2 separate regions of the Homo sapiens genome follow, and region 2 is linked to region 1. The links come from fine-mapping of genetic effects on gene expression. Tissue or cell type: ovary. Region 1 holds a variant in brackets; the other region holds the start of a gene. All regions are shown on one strand. Distances are between the middles of the regions.

Region 1 (8,106 bases):
CCCTATTGTGGTCCCATTTTGAATCTTTCAACCTTATTCCAATTCCTTATTTCTCATCTAGTTGACATGGATGGGAAATTGATCAGCCGCAAACCATTTCCTTGGGAGAGAGAAAGATATGATTATTTTATAAAAATATGCCAAATTTTCTTGATGATCTAACATCATGCTTACCTGACAGAAGGGCAGGGGGAAAGAGCTGGTACTCACCTTGACACCTGTCTGTACCCGATGAGGGGCAGCCTGACTGTGGGTGAATATCGTGCCGAGGGCTGAAGTAGTTTTTATTTTAATCATTTACAAAGAAAAAGCTTCCCAAAGAAATCAGAGATGTTTCTCAGGTGCTAGGTCTGCAGTCATGCTTCTGATCTGTTCAGCACCCATAAAAGGTGCCACAGGCTCCACTGCAAAGCAATGTGTAAGTTTTGGATTATGTGAGACCCTGAATGCAAATGGGGAACTCAGAGGATGGTGGAAAGCCAGTTCCATGTTGGCAGGAAAGTATTCTAGTGTTTTCCCCTCTAGATCTCCAACATGTTTATAGCACATAATAAGCACTAAATAGATATATATTAACTGATTTTGAGTAACCAGGTCATATGTAGAACAGTTAAACATAGACATAGAGGTAAAAGGAAAAAAATAAAAAGGCTGGGTGCGGAGGCTCATGCCTGTAATCCCAGCACTTTGGGAGGCCGAGGTGGGAGGATTGCTTGAGCCCAAGAGTTTGAGACCAGCCTAGGTAACATAGTGAAAAAATTAGCCAGGTGTGGTAGCACATGCCTGTAGTCCCAGTTACTTGGGAAGCTGAGGTGTGAGGATCATTTGAGCCAAGGAAGTCAAGGCTGCAGTGAGCCCGTGATCTTACCACTGTACTCCAGTCTGGGCAGTAGAGCGAGACCTTGTCTCAAAAAAAAAAGTAAAATTAAAAAATTTGACCTGAATGGCTAGCTACTTACTAAATTTAATCCTTGCACCCTGAAAAGACTTAGTACATGTTCCTTTATACCATTAACTGATATCCAAATAACTTGTAATAACTATCTTAATAATTCTACAGCAGCAATTTGAGTCTCCTTAAAAATTGTCAAGCATTTTCTTTTGTTAGTCTGTTCTGGGGTAATGAGTCACAAGTAGTAATTACTGGGTGGGAATTCATTTTTTTTTCTTTTTTCTTTTTAAATACAATGTTAAGCATGTTGTATTAATATTAAATAATTCTAAAGAGTGTTTCAATAATTTGGAAGTTATTAATGATTGGTGGATGAAAAGATTTTATCCAGTTGTCCAAGCATATGGCAAAAGAAAACTGGCTTAAGTTGTTGAATTTCTGTTTTCATTTTCCATTGAATTACTGTTTAAAAATGGAACTGGAGAACATGTAATTACTCCAATGGAATGATCATGGGACATCAAAAAACTTGTTGCCCTAGGTGGTTAACTGCATGACTAAGAGACAACAATGGGGTGGACAAGGTGAACCTTGTTCAGTAGTGATCTCAATTGCATTTTGGTTCTGTAAAGCGCAAATAGGTTAACTGAATACCAAAGAGTAGTGAACTGCCTATGATTTGCATCTTTATATGATGGCTAAGAATTCAAGAAATTGGAATATAGTATTTATAACACTCTGTGACCACGACCACAATGTCCCATCAATTTCCTAGACTTCTGAGTGTAGGAAAACAGAAAAGGCCATATTCTCAACTTATGTAATTGATAACTACTAATTTTCTAACAATTTTCCAATGATTGCTTGCTATAAAAATGTAAAATGGAGCCAGAAGCTTTAGCATATATTATTCACACTGTAATTTTGGTTTATTTCCTTCTAGACTTTTTTCCATATTTTTTAGAACAGTTGTAATCATGTTGTACATATAATCTACCCTTATTTTTTAAAACCTACTGTTATAAATGTTACTTATGTTTAAAATAGCAAAAAAAAAAAACTATCTTGAAGATATTGGTTATAAAGATGATATAATTTATTTTATAATTTCCATATGGCTGGCTATCTAGATTATCTATTTTTTATTTTTGCAATGAGACAGATATTGCTGTGCATTGATTTTTTGCACACATTTTTTTCCAGGATTTTGCCTGTTTTCTTAGAAGAACATTCTACAAGGAAAATTAATGGGTGGAAGTTTATAAACCTATTCATAATGACTCTTGAAGCAAATATTATTCAGGATCTTTTTTTTTTTTTTTTTTTTTTTTTTTTTGAGACCGTCTCACTCTGTTGCCCAGGCTGGAGTGCAGTGGCATGATCATGGCTAACGGCAACCTTTGCCTCCCTGGGCTCAGGTGATTCTCACACCTCAGTTTCCTGAGTAGCTGTGTCTACAGGTGTGTACCACTATGCTTTGCTAATTTTTGCATTTTTAGTAGGGACAAAGTTTTGCCATGTTGCCAAGGCTGGTCTTGAACTCCTGGCCTTAAGAGATCTGCTTACTTCAGCCTCCCAAAGTGCTAGGATTAAAGGCATGAGCCACCACACTTTGCCAGACCTATTTGTTTTCAAGTGACATTAACTAGCTTAAAAATAAAGGGAAAATTTATTAGAAGCAAACAATTATATCTTATGTAACAGGAGAAAGTGCATCTAGATGGCTAGAATCAGAGACTTAAGTCCACCAGAACTTTCTCTGACTCTAATTTCTTTACAAGGCTCAGCAGTCAGCCTCATTTCATTCATTTGCTGGCCGGAATTACTGCTCTAGAATTGAAGTAGTTTTTCCACACCTGGTGCCTCAGCTGGAATGTCTACAATGTCTGTGGGCTTGCCAGATCTCTCTCTCTCTCTCCATGTTTTCTCTCATCATTCTGTAGCCCAACTCAAGATTCTTTACATATTAGTTGTCTTCTAAAAGTGCAAAACATGGGAGATGCAAGATCCCTTAAGTCACACAACACTTCAACTCTGTTGCATTTGTCAAAGCAAGTCACAGGCTAGGCCAGATTCAAGGAGAGGGGGAATGGGCTTCACCATCTGATGGGAGGAGTGGCATGGATGATGGTTACTTTTATGTGTCAACTTGACTGGACCACAAGGTGCCCAGATATTTGTCTCTGCATGATTCTGGGTATGTCTATGAGGGGTTTCTGGATAAGATTAACATTTGAATCGGTAGATCACGTAAAATGAGTTGTCCTCTCTAATTTGTGTGGACCTCCTCCACTCAGTTGAAGGCCTGAACAGAACAAAGAAGCGGAGGTCAAGAGAGAACTCCTCCTGAACTGTGGGGTCAGGAAAGGCTGGGGTGCCGTGGAAATTAGCTTCAAAGGTTTTTCAAAGTTTATTGCTTGGTGTAGGTAATAGGGTCGATTCTCTGTAGAAGGACTTTTTCTTCTCTATATTCCTCCAACATAGTACGTTTTCCCCTGGTCTGGAGCAGGATGCTTTCTTAGTTTATGATGCAACGACTTCACAGTGGATGTCTGCTTTATTTCTTTTTGAAATTCCATGAACTTTGAAATGAGTTCTTTTTACTTTGAGTTCTTCATATACATGTAAACAAAATGTTTTCCTGAATCCAAACAACCAGAGCTTTAAATTTTGAATAACTGTGAGAAAAATTGAGTACTTGAGATTCAAAGAAAAACACAGGCAAAGTCTCTGACATCGTTCCCCATCCCAAAGCTAACTTTGATGGTAAGTCATTAAACCGAGATTCTCTCAGGACCTGGGGCAGAAAACTGCACTAGGATGTTTTTTGTTTGGTTCAGGTTGGGTAACATTGGCATGTGATAGAAGTTATCTTTTGAATTAGCTCAAGAATAAGAGGTTCACTTTTATGAGCAGGGAGTTTCAGTATGGTTTGTGTCATGAATAATCCTGCCTGACATGGACCATGACCCTTGAACATTCTGAAATGCAGGAAAATTCTAAGTCTTCATAAGATAAACAAGGAGCAGCATCTTGTTACTTTTTCTTTCCAATTTAAAGTATTATACTTCGGACTCTATGTTATACATAGAATTTTAAATGTGGGTTTATATTTAGACTTGAATATGGTAGAAAACAAGGCTTGATATGTTCTGCTTCATAATGACACATCTATATCTATCTATCTATCTCTCTATATATATTTTGTAATACACTTTTTATTTTGGAAAAATCTGGGGTTTACAGAAAAGTTCTAAAGATAGCACAGACAGTCCCTGTAT[A/G]ATTCTCTTGCAGCTTTGCTTTCCCTTCATGTTATCAGTTCACATTACTGTGGTGTATTTGTCAAAACTGAGTAACCACCATTGGTGCGTTACTAGTAGCTAAACTCCAGCCTATATTTAAGTTTCACTAGTTTTTTCCTAATGTCTTTTTCTATCCCAGGATCCTAACCAGGCTACCACGTTGCATTTAGTTGTCACATCTCCTTTGGTCTGTGACAGTTTCTCAGTCTTTTTTTTTTTTGAGCTGGAGTCTCACTCTGTCACCCAGGCTGGGGTGCAGTGTTGGAATCTTGGTTCACTGCAACCTCTGTCCCCCGGATTCAAGTGATTCTCCTGCTTCAGCCTCCCGAGTAGCTGGGATTATAGGCATGCACCACTACACCTGATTAATTTTTGTAATTTTTTTTGTTATTGTTTTTAGTAGATACAGGGTTTCATGATTTTGGCTAGGCTGCTCTTGAACTCCTGACCTCAGGTGATCCACCTGCCTTGGCCTTCCAAAGTGCTGGGATTACAGGCGTGAGCCAGCTCACCCAGCCTCAGTCTTTTCTTGTGTTTCATCATCTTGAAAGTTTTGAGAGTATTGGACAAGTGTGGTATAGACTATTCTTCAATTTTGGCTTGTCTGATGTTTTTCTTAAGATTAGATTCGGGTTATGGGTTTCGGGGTAGAGTAACACAGGGGCAAAACACCATTCTCATCACATCTTATCAGAGTTACATGACATACACGTGATTTATCACTAGCGATGTTGTCCTTGATCATTTGGGTAAGATCATGCTTACCAGCTGTGTACACTGTAAAGTTACTATGTTTCACTTTCTTTGAAGTGAGTCAGTATGTCCTGCCCACACTCAAGGGAGTGGGAGGGATGGAGCTTTACCCCTTGCTTATTTGGAATGCAAAATAATATTTTGGTAATGTTTTCAATTTCAGTGGACCAGTATTTTGTGTGTTTGAAGACAGGAAATAAATAAAGTCCTGGTACAAGCTCTTCCTTTTTGTTTCTGTTCTGAGTAAAGGGCTTGTGTCCAATGCCTTGCTGACTCTCCTGAATATTTTGTCTAAAACACCCAACAATGTTGACCTATGCAGGATTATGATGGAAGTAAGTAGAAAGAGGTTTGCATATTATTTTGAATGCATTTTCATCTTCAGATGAAGTAAAGATGAATCCCGTACTAGTTTGTTCTCACACTGCTATAAAGAAATATCTGAGACTGGGTAATTCATAAAGAAAAGAGGTTTAATTGGATCATGGTTCTGCAGGCTGTATAGGAAGCACAATGCTGGAATCTGCTCAGGTTCTGGGAAGGCCTCAGGAAACTTACAGTCATGGCAGAAGGTGAAGGAGAAGCAGGCTTGTCTTACATGGCTGGAGCAGGAGGAAGAGAGATGGGGGAGGTGCCACACACCATTAAAAAAACAGATCTTGTGATAATTCACTATCACCACAACAGCACCCAGTGGGATGGTGCTCAAGTATGAGAAACCACTCCCATGACCCAATCACCTCCCACCAGGCCCCACCTCCAACACCAGGGATTACAATTGAACATGAGATTTGGGTGGTGACACAGACTCAAACCATATCAAATTCTAAATATGGAAATGTAATAAACTCATTGATTTATTTTTTATTTTTGAGACGGTGTCTCACTCTGTTGTCCAGGCTGGAGTGCAGTGGTGCAATCTCGGCTCATTGCAACCTCCACCTCCTGAGTTCAAGCGATTCTCCTGCCTCAGCCTCCTGAGTAGCTGGGATTACAGGTATGCACCTGGCTAAATTTTGTATTTTAGTAGAGACAGGGTTTCACCCTGTTGGTCAGGCTGGTCTCAAACTCCTGACCTTGTGATCCAGCTGCCTCGGCCTCCCAAAGTGCTGGGATTACAGGCGTGAACCGCAGTGCCCGGCCAACTCATTGATTTTAAACCAAAGTTAGGGTTTGACAAACTCCATCTAGCCACACGGTTCTCTGTCTCAGTTTTAGCTTTGTCTTCCTATGCATGCTCAGTGATCAGCTGGCAAACAGGTTCCTAGCTGGATGAGCATTCTTGCCTCCTCCCTCAGACCTTAGCATGGACACCCAGGGTAGATATTAGGGGTTGAATTGTGTCCTTTCTCCCCCAAATTCATATGTTGAAGCCCTAAACCCCTGTACTTCAAAATGTGACCTTATGTGGAAATTGGGTCTTTGCAGGTTAGTTAAGATGAGGCCATTAAGGTGGACTCTAGTCCTAGGTGACTGTTGTCCTTAACAAAAGGGGCTATTTGGTGACATAGATTGGGCACACAGGAAGAACCTCATGTGAGGACGAAGGGAGAGATTAGGATGATACTTCTGTAAGGCAGGAGAATCGTTTGAACCCAGCATCAGATGTTTGGCAAGAGACATTGAGCAGGTTCTGTCTCACAGCCCTCAGAAGGAACCAACCCTGCCAGTACCTTGATCTTGGACCTCTATTCTCCAGGACTGTAAGACAACACATTTCTGTTGTTTAGGCCACCCAGTTTGTGGTACATTGTTACAGCATCACTAGGATTATCAGATAATGGAAGTTGAACTGAGCAACCCAGCTTTTGTGACCCCAAACATGGTTGGTGGTAGGGCTTTATCTTGGTCACAGGCTCTAGAAGAATCTGCACTTGTCATTTACTATAAGCCCTTCACAACTGGACTCTTCTACTCAATGCTTATTCAAGATTTTTTTTCAGGTGCTGATCTTATTGAAATTTGTAGTATTAATATTTTAGAACTGTATATAATGTATTTACCTTCCAAAATTTCCTTCAATGCCTGACAGCTTTCTATCTACTGACCCAATTGTGATGACAAACCAATGCTGGCTTTGGTAGTCAAATTCCTGACCACATGCTAATGGTTGACTCATTCAGTTTTTTGCCTGCAGATTTAGTCTCAACGAAATGAGCCACACTTTTTTTCTTACAAAGCAGCATTACCTTCTGGGGAGAATGAAATGTGGTTTTTCTTTGACAGATAAGTGGGAAAACCATCTGTGCATTTCCCGTCTGAATCAAGCTTAAGCCCCTCCCCTAGTCATCCAGGGCTGCATTAACCATGGACTACCGGTGCCCCAGCAAGGGGAGGCTGTGGATGTGGATAACTCCACACAGCTGTGCCTGGAGGCTGACGGACTATGGCAGATATTTCTCCACTTTATTCAGGGACCAGAATATGTTCACTTTGCTTGGAGGAACTGATTAATTAAGTGATGGACTGGAGAACAAAGAGGTAGCGGTTGATTATATTCATTAGAGGAAATAGAAAATTAACTCCTTAATTAAGGTATTATATTGTCATACTTCAATATCACATATTCTGCACTTCCTTAAAAGAGTTCAGTGTATTTCTTTTGCATGCCTGGTAATAACCTCAGGAAGCAGGACTGACTGAATATCATGATGTCTATTTAGCATTTAAAGGAACTGAAAAGTGGAAATGTACACGTCTCTTTCCCCCCTACTCTAAAGTTTAATTCAAATGCAATTGCAACCAACATTTCACTAGGAAGGTGGCTTGTACATTTGAATAGACAAATGGATATTTGGCACTTCTGTCCATTTTTCAACAAACTGTTGTCAAGTACAATTTTGGTAGCTTGAGGGTTGCAGAAGGTGCAACAGGTGGCTGCACCTCAGCTCTTCCTTCTCTAAAGGAAGAAATGCAAGACTGGGAAGATTGTTCTCTAACTGTGGCAGGTAAACACGGTCTGCTCCCAAAGTGAGTTGAGACCACTGGGGAATGGACTCTGTGCCCATGATTATAGAATTGAGATTACCAGTTGGGAAATTAGAGGCAACTTTCAGGTTTGTATAGCATATAGTTTGCTGAATCCAATTCCTATCTATCCTATATATTAGGATTTTCATTTTTAGAGCAAAAATTTGAGTTCGTCCCTCAAAATGCCTA
Region 2 (8,106 bases), 180 kb before region 1:
TTTGCAGATAAGATTTTGTAAACAAATTGCAGCAAGTTGGTCCTCCACGGAAAACTTACCAGTAGAGCTGAATTTACTTTCAAATTCTCTAAATGGGTTTCTGAGGGTTTGGGTTAATGCAGTGGCCTTGAACAGGAACTATCCAGAAAGATGTCAAGCAAAGGTGGCTAGAGTCACACTCGGGTGACACTACTGTCACCATGCTTCTGCTTCATTCTTGTTCTACATCTTTTATTTGAGATTTTAATCCTCTTTTTACTATTTAAGAGGAAAGGATGGGGAACTGAGAAAGACGCTAGGCCTTGGTGGGTGATGTGGGAGGTGGGGAGAGGGAAGATAAGAGTGAGGTTTTGAGGCTTGATGAGGTCTGTATAATTATCTATTGTAGGTGTCTTAGTTGACACAATAGATATGATTTGAAAAGCTGAAGGCACATGGAAATTTTTGTAAACTGACTAGTAATTTAAATGACAATGAGACCATTATATTGCAAGCAAAGACAAATCTTTTAGAAAAAAATTAGTAATCACGAATAATTTATCTTTTGGATAATGATTTTCATAATGCAGGTTATGCTTCCCTGGAGCAAGTTATGCAGGCAATTAAAAATGACAATGGAATTCAGTTTATAACCGATGAAATCCAGCTTTGTTTGTCAAAAACAAATGCATTCATTCCATTTGGAGAGTAAAACAGTCTTTTTTTCATGAGCATAATGGTGAAAGCTAATTAAATTTATCATAAATTACACCCTTAATATTTGTTCTCAAGATCATTAGTCTATAATGTAAACAGACACATTCACAATAGTTAATGTTAACAGTTTTCTAAAATTCAGAACTTTAAAGGTTTATTCATTTATTCCCTAAGCATCAGTTTAAAAAAATGTTTTAAAGAGCATACACATTAAAAAGTATGATATTAGATGAACAACTAAAAATTAGACTAAAAACATCGCCAAATTGGATTTTATATAGTAATATTGTTACATTGAGAGGTAACATTTTGGCAACCATTTGCTGCAAACCTACAAATTCTGTAAAAGCTTCTAAAGATTAATAGCACTATCAGTCAGTTGCATCATTATCTCATTGAAAATGAATTCTCACCCTCCTTTAAAAAAATTTAAAAAAATGTTTTAAGAGAACAACTAAATCTGATGGAAGACAAAATTAAGGAGACCTGCAGTTCTCCTTGTTGGTGTAAGCTTTTGCCTCCGGTTTCTATGGTAACCCGTGATCTGTATTCCAATCACACCTTTGAAAGGTTTGTTTTCTCCATCATGAAAATTTAGCTGGAAGCACTGAAGGTACTGAACATTAATTTTTATGTTGTCTTTTTTTTTTGGAAAAATTGGAAAAAGAGAATAGAGAAGGAAGATAACACCCACAGGCTTAGACTGCAAATACAATGAGGAAATGTATTTGCTAATTTTTAGATGATTTACATGCCTGGAAGATCACAAGGATAAAAACCCTGAATGCTAAATGAACAAGTAGGCAGCTCCTCTAACAAACTCAGGAAATGTCTTGAGCAGAACATTGCAAATATTCATCTAATTCGATAGGGTAAAAACCTAGAGACTTGCTCATAGAGGTTGAAAGAAAATGTAGCTCAGTGGTTTTCAGCCTGGAGTGATTTTGCCTCCCAGGAGACATTTGGCGATATCTGGGGACATTTTTGGTTGTCACAACTGGTGCTGGTGCTGGTGGTGTGTGTGGAGGGTGGTACTGGCTGCTAGTAGAGGCCAGCAATGAATGCCAGACATCCTACAGTGCATAGGACAGCCTTCCACAACAAAGAAATATCTGGCCCCAAAAGGAGGTGGGAAAACCTGCATCCTCCATTTAGCTTTATAGATGGTGTACTGGTGTGAGGGAAATAAATATTCAAAAGAATAAAATGCTTTAGAAGCAACCTCATTTGTAATTTGCTTCCCTGGTATTTTACTACACTAACTTTTTATTTCACTTTAAATGGCAGAAAGAGAAACAGGAAAAAACAAACAGTTCCCGCTTTTTTCTTACCTTTGGTTTAAATTTGAACATTTCCAGCTGGCATGCATTAATCTAATTTGGTGCTGCCTCCTATGACCTGTAAATGTGTACAGTAGGGTCGTCAAGTGTTTCCACTGCAAAATCGCTAGTGCAGTTGAGTAAATATTGCCACTTTGCTTAATTCAAATATGTACGTTAAAGTTACGATAAGTTAATTTTCCTGTTAAGTGAAAATGCACTTACCTTTACCCAGTTGAATACAGATGTACTTGCCTTTGACGTCTGCCTCCCTAAGTATGGTTACAGTTTGTCACTCCGGTTCTGGAGGGCCACCCTGTCCCTGAATTCACGCCCAGGTCCTGAGGGCAGAACCATCCTGAGGACAACCTGCAGCTCCATCGATTTTTTCTTGGCTGGGACGCAGGCGAGCATGAAAGCGATCCAAACACAGCCAGAGGGCGCCAAAATGCCGCAAATAAAAGTTCCAAAGGCGTCAACTGGCTTTTGCGGGAAGGTAAAATTGGCTTTTGTGTAATCAAAGAGCTACCGTTGTCAACGATGTCACGTTACGTTATTTTTGTATGTCCCTCTTGCCAACAGGTAAGCAAAGTGAACGCATCTTCCTACCCCGGTGGCTATTCTGTGTCCCGGTGCTAAACCAAGTGTCCGCCCCCTTAGGGCACCCGGACAAGCCGCGGTTGGCCCTAGCTTTGACTCGAGCGCTCGCAAGCAGCAGCGTGCGGGCTGCCTCGGCCAACCCCGTCTTCTCAATATTGGTGGCCTCCATTAAAGCACAGACATCAAAAACATCGACGGCCCCTTTCCCCTCTTCTCTTCCCTCCTTCCTCTCCCAAGTTCCGAGAGCATCCTCCGAGGGGCGACGTCTCTCGCCCCACCAGCTGGACCTCGGCGACCGCGCCTCCCCCGAAGCTGCAGCCTTCGGGGCTGAGCCCCGCGGGTGCGGGTGCAGGTGCGGAGCCGCCCAAGGTGCGCAACTCGTTTGCAGCGGCGCAGCCCAGACGCGCCTGCAGCTGGGGCTCACCCCAACCTCGCTGCCAGCCGAGGTAGCGGAATCGTAGTCGACGTCGGGAGCGGGCTGGACTGGGGTCTGAGAAGGGTAGCTGGTGCCAGGGGGTGTCATTCATCACCTCGAGGCAGCTCCCTAAGTCTGAGCGAGAGCCCGAGCACTTCTTATCCAACGGTTCCAAATAAATGAGGGGGAGAGAGAGAGAGAGAGTGAGAGAGAGAGAGAGAGAGAGAGAGTGAGTGAGAGAGTGAGAGAGTGGGAGAAGTCCACGGACAGCCCAGGCGGCGCGGCGGGGGAAGGGGGACGCAGGAATGGAGGAGAGGAGAGGGGAGGCGGAGGGGGGATCTGAATAGAGGGCATTTAGGAAACGTTGGCGGGGCACAGAGTTGGGAGGTGGGGGGAAGGGAGGAACCAGGATGGCGGATAGGAGAGAAATGGGGGTGACTGTGCTGGAGGGGAGGGGAGGTGGGGGCCCAGAGCTGGGGGGAGTCAAGGGGAGGCGGGCGTGTCCAGGCTGGAGGGGAGAGGGGAGGGTCTGCGCCGGAGGAGGGGAGGGGAGCAGAGGGAGTGCAGGGGGTGGGGAGATGGAGCTGGAGGGGGTGGAGGGGAGACGGGCGGGGCGCCGGGCTGGAGGGAGGGGAGAGAGGCGGGCGGGGAGCGCGGGAGGAGGGAGGCTGGGCGGGCGGACGCGCGGGGGGAGGGCACTGGGCAGGAAGGGGAGGGGGAGCGAGCGCGAGAAATGCAGAGGCTGCAGCGGCGGCGGCGGCGGCAGTAGCGGCAGCGGCGACGACGGCGGCGGCAGCGCTCCAACTGGCTCCTCGCTCCGGGCTCCGCCGTCGAGCCGGGAGAGAGCCTCCGCCAGCGGCCAGGCACCAGCCAGACGACGCCAGCGACCCCGGCCTCTCGGCGGCACCGCGCTAACTCAGGGGCTGCATAGGCACCCAGAGCCGGTAAGGAGGCGCGCCCGGTGGCCCCGCGCCGCCGCGGACCCGGGGGCCTCCGTCCCCCACCGCGCCGCGCCCCGCCCCGCAGCCCCCGGGCTCTCCCTTCATGCAGCGGGCAGCAGGGATGTGGGCCCGGATTGGACGGCAAGGGCCTGGGGTCCCTCTGTGAGGGCTCCGTCGCACTTCGGGGATCCCGGGTGATGGGGGGCCCAGAAGTGGGAGGCTTCAGCCGCTCGCATGGTGGAGGGGTGAGGGGGGCGGCGAGGTTGGTAAACGGAGCTGGGGGGAGGGGGCTGTCGGGGAGAGGAGCTGCGGGTGACGGGAGGAATTGCCGAATGCGAAACCCCCTCAGTGCGTTGAGTCCCGGGGAGACGGTTCTGTGGGCTGAAGGGAGCGCTTCCGTCATCGGAGCCCTTACCAGCCTGGGAGAAAGCGCTCGGGGCGAGGGGCGCAGCAGCCAAAGATGGAGGGTGGGGGTGGGGTGGGGCGGGAGTCCGGGGAGAAAGAAGATGGGGAATCTGGCCCGATCAGAAGGAAGTGGGTGGCTTTTTGCTTTGGCAAACGGGTTTTCTCGACCCATGGGACTCCTGGATCTTGGTTCTGGGGCCAAGGAATACGAGGTTCACACGGCGACGTGCACTCAGAAGCACCTCCCGAGCAGATCGGAGCCCCAGCCTCGTCAGTGGCGGAATTGCCTTCCTACGAACCCGTGGGCTGCCTCGGAGCAGTTTGTTTTTTCGAGCCTTTGGTTCCAAGAATGCGCCAGGCGCCTCCGCCCTGGGTCCCGGCCCCGGCCCGGGCCCGGGGGGTGTGGGCTTGAACCTGACAGCGCGCGGCCCTAACTGGGCTCAGCCCCGCTGGGAGCGTAGGGTTGGGGTTGAGCAGCTTTTGCCCAAAGCGCTAAAGCTGAAACCCGGCGCCCGGTTCCTGCTCCCCCCGCCCCCGTCCCCCCTCCATTTCCAGAAAAATAAAAATTGCGGAATCCTGGATCCGATCGCACGCACAATGCGCGGCTGCAAACCGCATTCTTTTCATGAATATTCATCGAACGCTTGGCCAGGCTCCTTATCTGCGTCCCCAGAGACATTTCCGCCTTGAAACGAACTCGGTGGACAGCCCTTGCCCATGTAATTCTCACTCTGCTGAAATTAGCACAGCACACATGGGTGCATTTTTTAGGACCTTGTACAGGTTGACAACACCTCTGTCTCCCCCGCGGCCACTCGCACTGTGGGGCGGGCTAAAACCCAACACTAGCGTCGAAATGGCCTTCTGCTATAGGGTTGTGGACCGACCCCCCACCCCCACCTCCCGGGATTACAGCCCGGGCCAACAGACCCCCAGTATACTGCAGGCAAAATGAATGAATCGGGACTGTAATTACCTATTCCTTTGTCTTGGCCTCGCGCATGCGCCGGAGAGCAGGGTGTGGAGGGCCCGGCAGCCCCATCCCATCTCCATCATCCAGCCACCCACTCCCCTCCCGAGCCGAGGAACAAAGGCGTTTGCCCTAAATGTTGCGGGAAACCCTTGGACACCAATGACAGTTTTTCCCGCCTGTGTGTGTGTTTCTTCTTTTCCAGGCTGTCTCTCATCTTTTGCTTTCTTGCTGATTTCAATTGACCAAAATTAAGATTTGCCTTGATGAGGATGAAGGCAAATTGTGGATTAAATATTTTGTACCCGCACACTGTTATTTTCCTTTCTAGTACTGTTCATTGTTCTTTTTCCTGTAACATATCTTACTGCAGTGAGGGTGGCTTTCTTAATTTGCATCAATTAACCGTTTGACAGATCTTTTTTGGTCATTTGATTAAGGGAAGGTGGCCTCAAAACTGTCAGTGGGCGTTGCCTCCAGTGACACCACCTGGGGAAAATTAAGACATCTTGGCGTTTATTCGAACAAGATGGCCTACAAAAACCGGAGAGAAGAAAACGATTACCTTGTCGGGATCCTAACCCTTTCTGTTTTCTCTGGACTCCGAACTCATTGTTTCATTAAGGATTCCAAAAGGCGAATGGCGTCCAGATGGAAATCTGATGGGGGCAGAAAGAAGGCAGTCGTTGGGGTGAAGCTGGTTGATTAGGTTCGCAATGATTCCTTTTTCCCCATTACCTAACAGAAGCCATGATATACCTTTGATGGCTGATTTTCTTTCAGATGATCTATTTTCCAGGTTATGGCCATTTAGATTTATTTTCAGGTAGTTTGTTTTTACCACACAAAAAGGGACTTATTGTGTATATTAAATAGGAGCCAAATATGATATTTTTTGCAGTGGTAGGTTATGTTTAATAGGGTTTTATGCTTAAGTACTGTCAGTACATCCTGGTGGAATAACGCGTGGCAGCAATGGAAATCATCTCTTTTGTCCTTTTTGATGAGAACTTGATATTGACCACGTTTAATATATCAGGGCCCATCTACTGGCTACGGTGGCTGTCTAGCTGTCTTCTAGGTGGCATGGATTGTACCCTCTGTACTCCTTAGTATTGAGTAGGTTATTATGATTTAGAGAGCTACGTTCTTTCTTTTTTCTTTTCCTTTAGGTTGTGTTTTTGGCGAGGGGTATGTTGGAATATAGAACAAATTCAATAGCAAATATATACCAGCATGTCCCCAATTCAGTAAATCTTAGGTTTTTGAGTGAGATAATATTTAAATCGATTTTTAAAAATTATTACAGAATTAAAATATTTCTATCAGTTCGCTTATTCTTTTAGCCAGCTAGCTTTTTGCCAAGCTTTAGCAGATAGAGAAATTGAGCCTTTTGATAAAAAGCACCAACAATGACAGTGGCATTTCTGTTCTTTAACTGGTACTCAGTCTGCCATTGTGACGTGTAGAAGAGAACCTTATCTCCCCACATCACCCTAGTTTAAAGGTCCAATGGGAGAGCCCTAAACATTTAGGCTGTCTATCCTTGGAGGCCTCTTCATAATCCTGGATTTACTAGGATCCATAATCCTCCTGGATCTTATGGTGCAAGAGGTGATGCGTTCTGTCTCTTTATTTTTTAATTTCACAATTAAGAACAGTTTGAAGCCATTTTCATTTCATGGTCAAGCGGAGTATGACATCAGAGAGAAACTTTCATTTGGAGGAGATTTGATCACTCTAAAATGGATGTCTGTGTTATTTACGGTAGTTTTGTAAAAATTGCAAAATCCACACCCATTTTTAAAAACAAGGTGTCATGTATATACACATGTACACATACACATACTTGTTTATACACACTCTAAAATCTTATGAATAACTTGAAATCAAACTGGTTGGTATAGAATATTATTTTATAGTGCTTTGATACTGGTCTTTGGAACATAATCAATTTCTGTCTTTCTAAATATGTGTTTGAAAGGGAAAGCCTAGCAAGTCTATTAATAAGCTCACTTCCCATTTATCCCAGTGTACCTGGAGCATTAAGCTAAGACGTTCATCCACAGGCTTAAAAACTTACATCAAGCACTACTGAACTTTACAAGCTGGAATAAACAATGCCTACTAAATAAAAGATTTATAAAATTGTTCTGTCTTATTTTTGTGATCTCTTGTAAATGTTTTTTTTTTTTTTTTTTTTAAATATCCAAAGAAGACCTGTGAACTATTATTTGTCAGAAGCAATTGCCCTTGGTATCTGATTCTGTTGAAAGAAATGCGTTGATTTGTCCAGACCTTTATCTTAATGTAGTTTGTACCTACTTATTTCACATCTTCTTTCTCTTCTTAATGATGGTCTTAGCTGGTACCCTGGAAACCAGGTAACTGCTGGGGAAAAACACTGAGTAGATATATAGACAACTTGAATATTCTCTGAAAATGGGCATGGAATCTTTATTGTTATATCAAATTTTCTCTAATTATATCTAATCCTTTAAATTTATTGTATCTCTTAAGACATTAGATAAGCCAGTGAACATGAGCTTTTTTCTTTGGCTTAATTATAGTGGACAACTATTAGGAAGGAACTGTGAGGTTGCAAATAGAATATTTTGAAAGATAAAGTACTCTTTATGTGTTTTGGGGTAATGTTTTTGGAGTGGTTTCTCAGGAAATCGTATAAAGACTGGATTTGAAGAATCTAATAATTCCTATTTTGGGGTTGTAATAAGAACTACATATGATATCTAAAAATGA

Alleles and levels. Alleles are on the strand shown, and positions count from the first base shown. SD is a standard deviation of normalised expression in the study named.
For the expression in ovary of the gene that starts at base 3,795 in region 2, G is the low allele of the variant in region 1 and A is the other (large effect, 0.77 SD a copy in GTEx).

The links. PIP is the estimated chance that this variant, and not a neighbour inherited with it, causes the effect.
Region 2: it holds the start of BASP1, and the variant in region 1 is fine-mapped to the expression of BASP1 in ovary (GTEx, PIP above 0.99).

What each region holds. Positions count from the first base shown.
Region 1 is chr5:17,391,491-17,399,596 of GRCh38, forward strand. No RefSeq gene overlaps it. Among named protein-coding and RNA genes, the nearest start is that of LINC02111, 8.2 kb to the left of the region's middle. The variant A/G (reference allele first, on the strand shown) is at 4,174.
Region 2 is chr5:17,213,837-17,221,942 of GRCh38, forward strand. It overlaps BASP1 (brain abundant membrane attached signal protein 1), which reads left to right and starts at 3,795. Exons shown (of 2, transcript NM_006317.5): 1 at 3,795-3,974. BASP1-AS1 (BASP1 antisense RNA 1) reads right to left here and starts at 3,586. Exons shown (of 3, transcript NR_027253.1): 1 at 2,241-3,586. RefSeq lists silencers at 3,591-4,070, 4,561-4,880 and an enhancer at 4,915-5,695.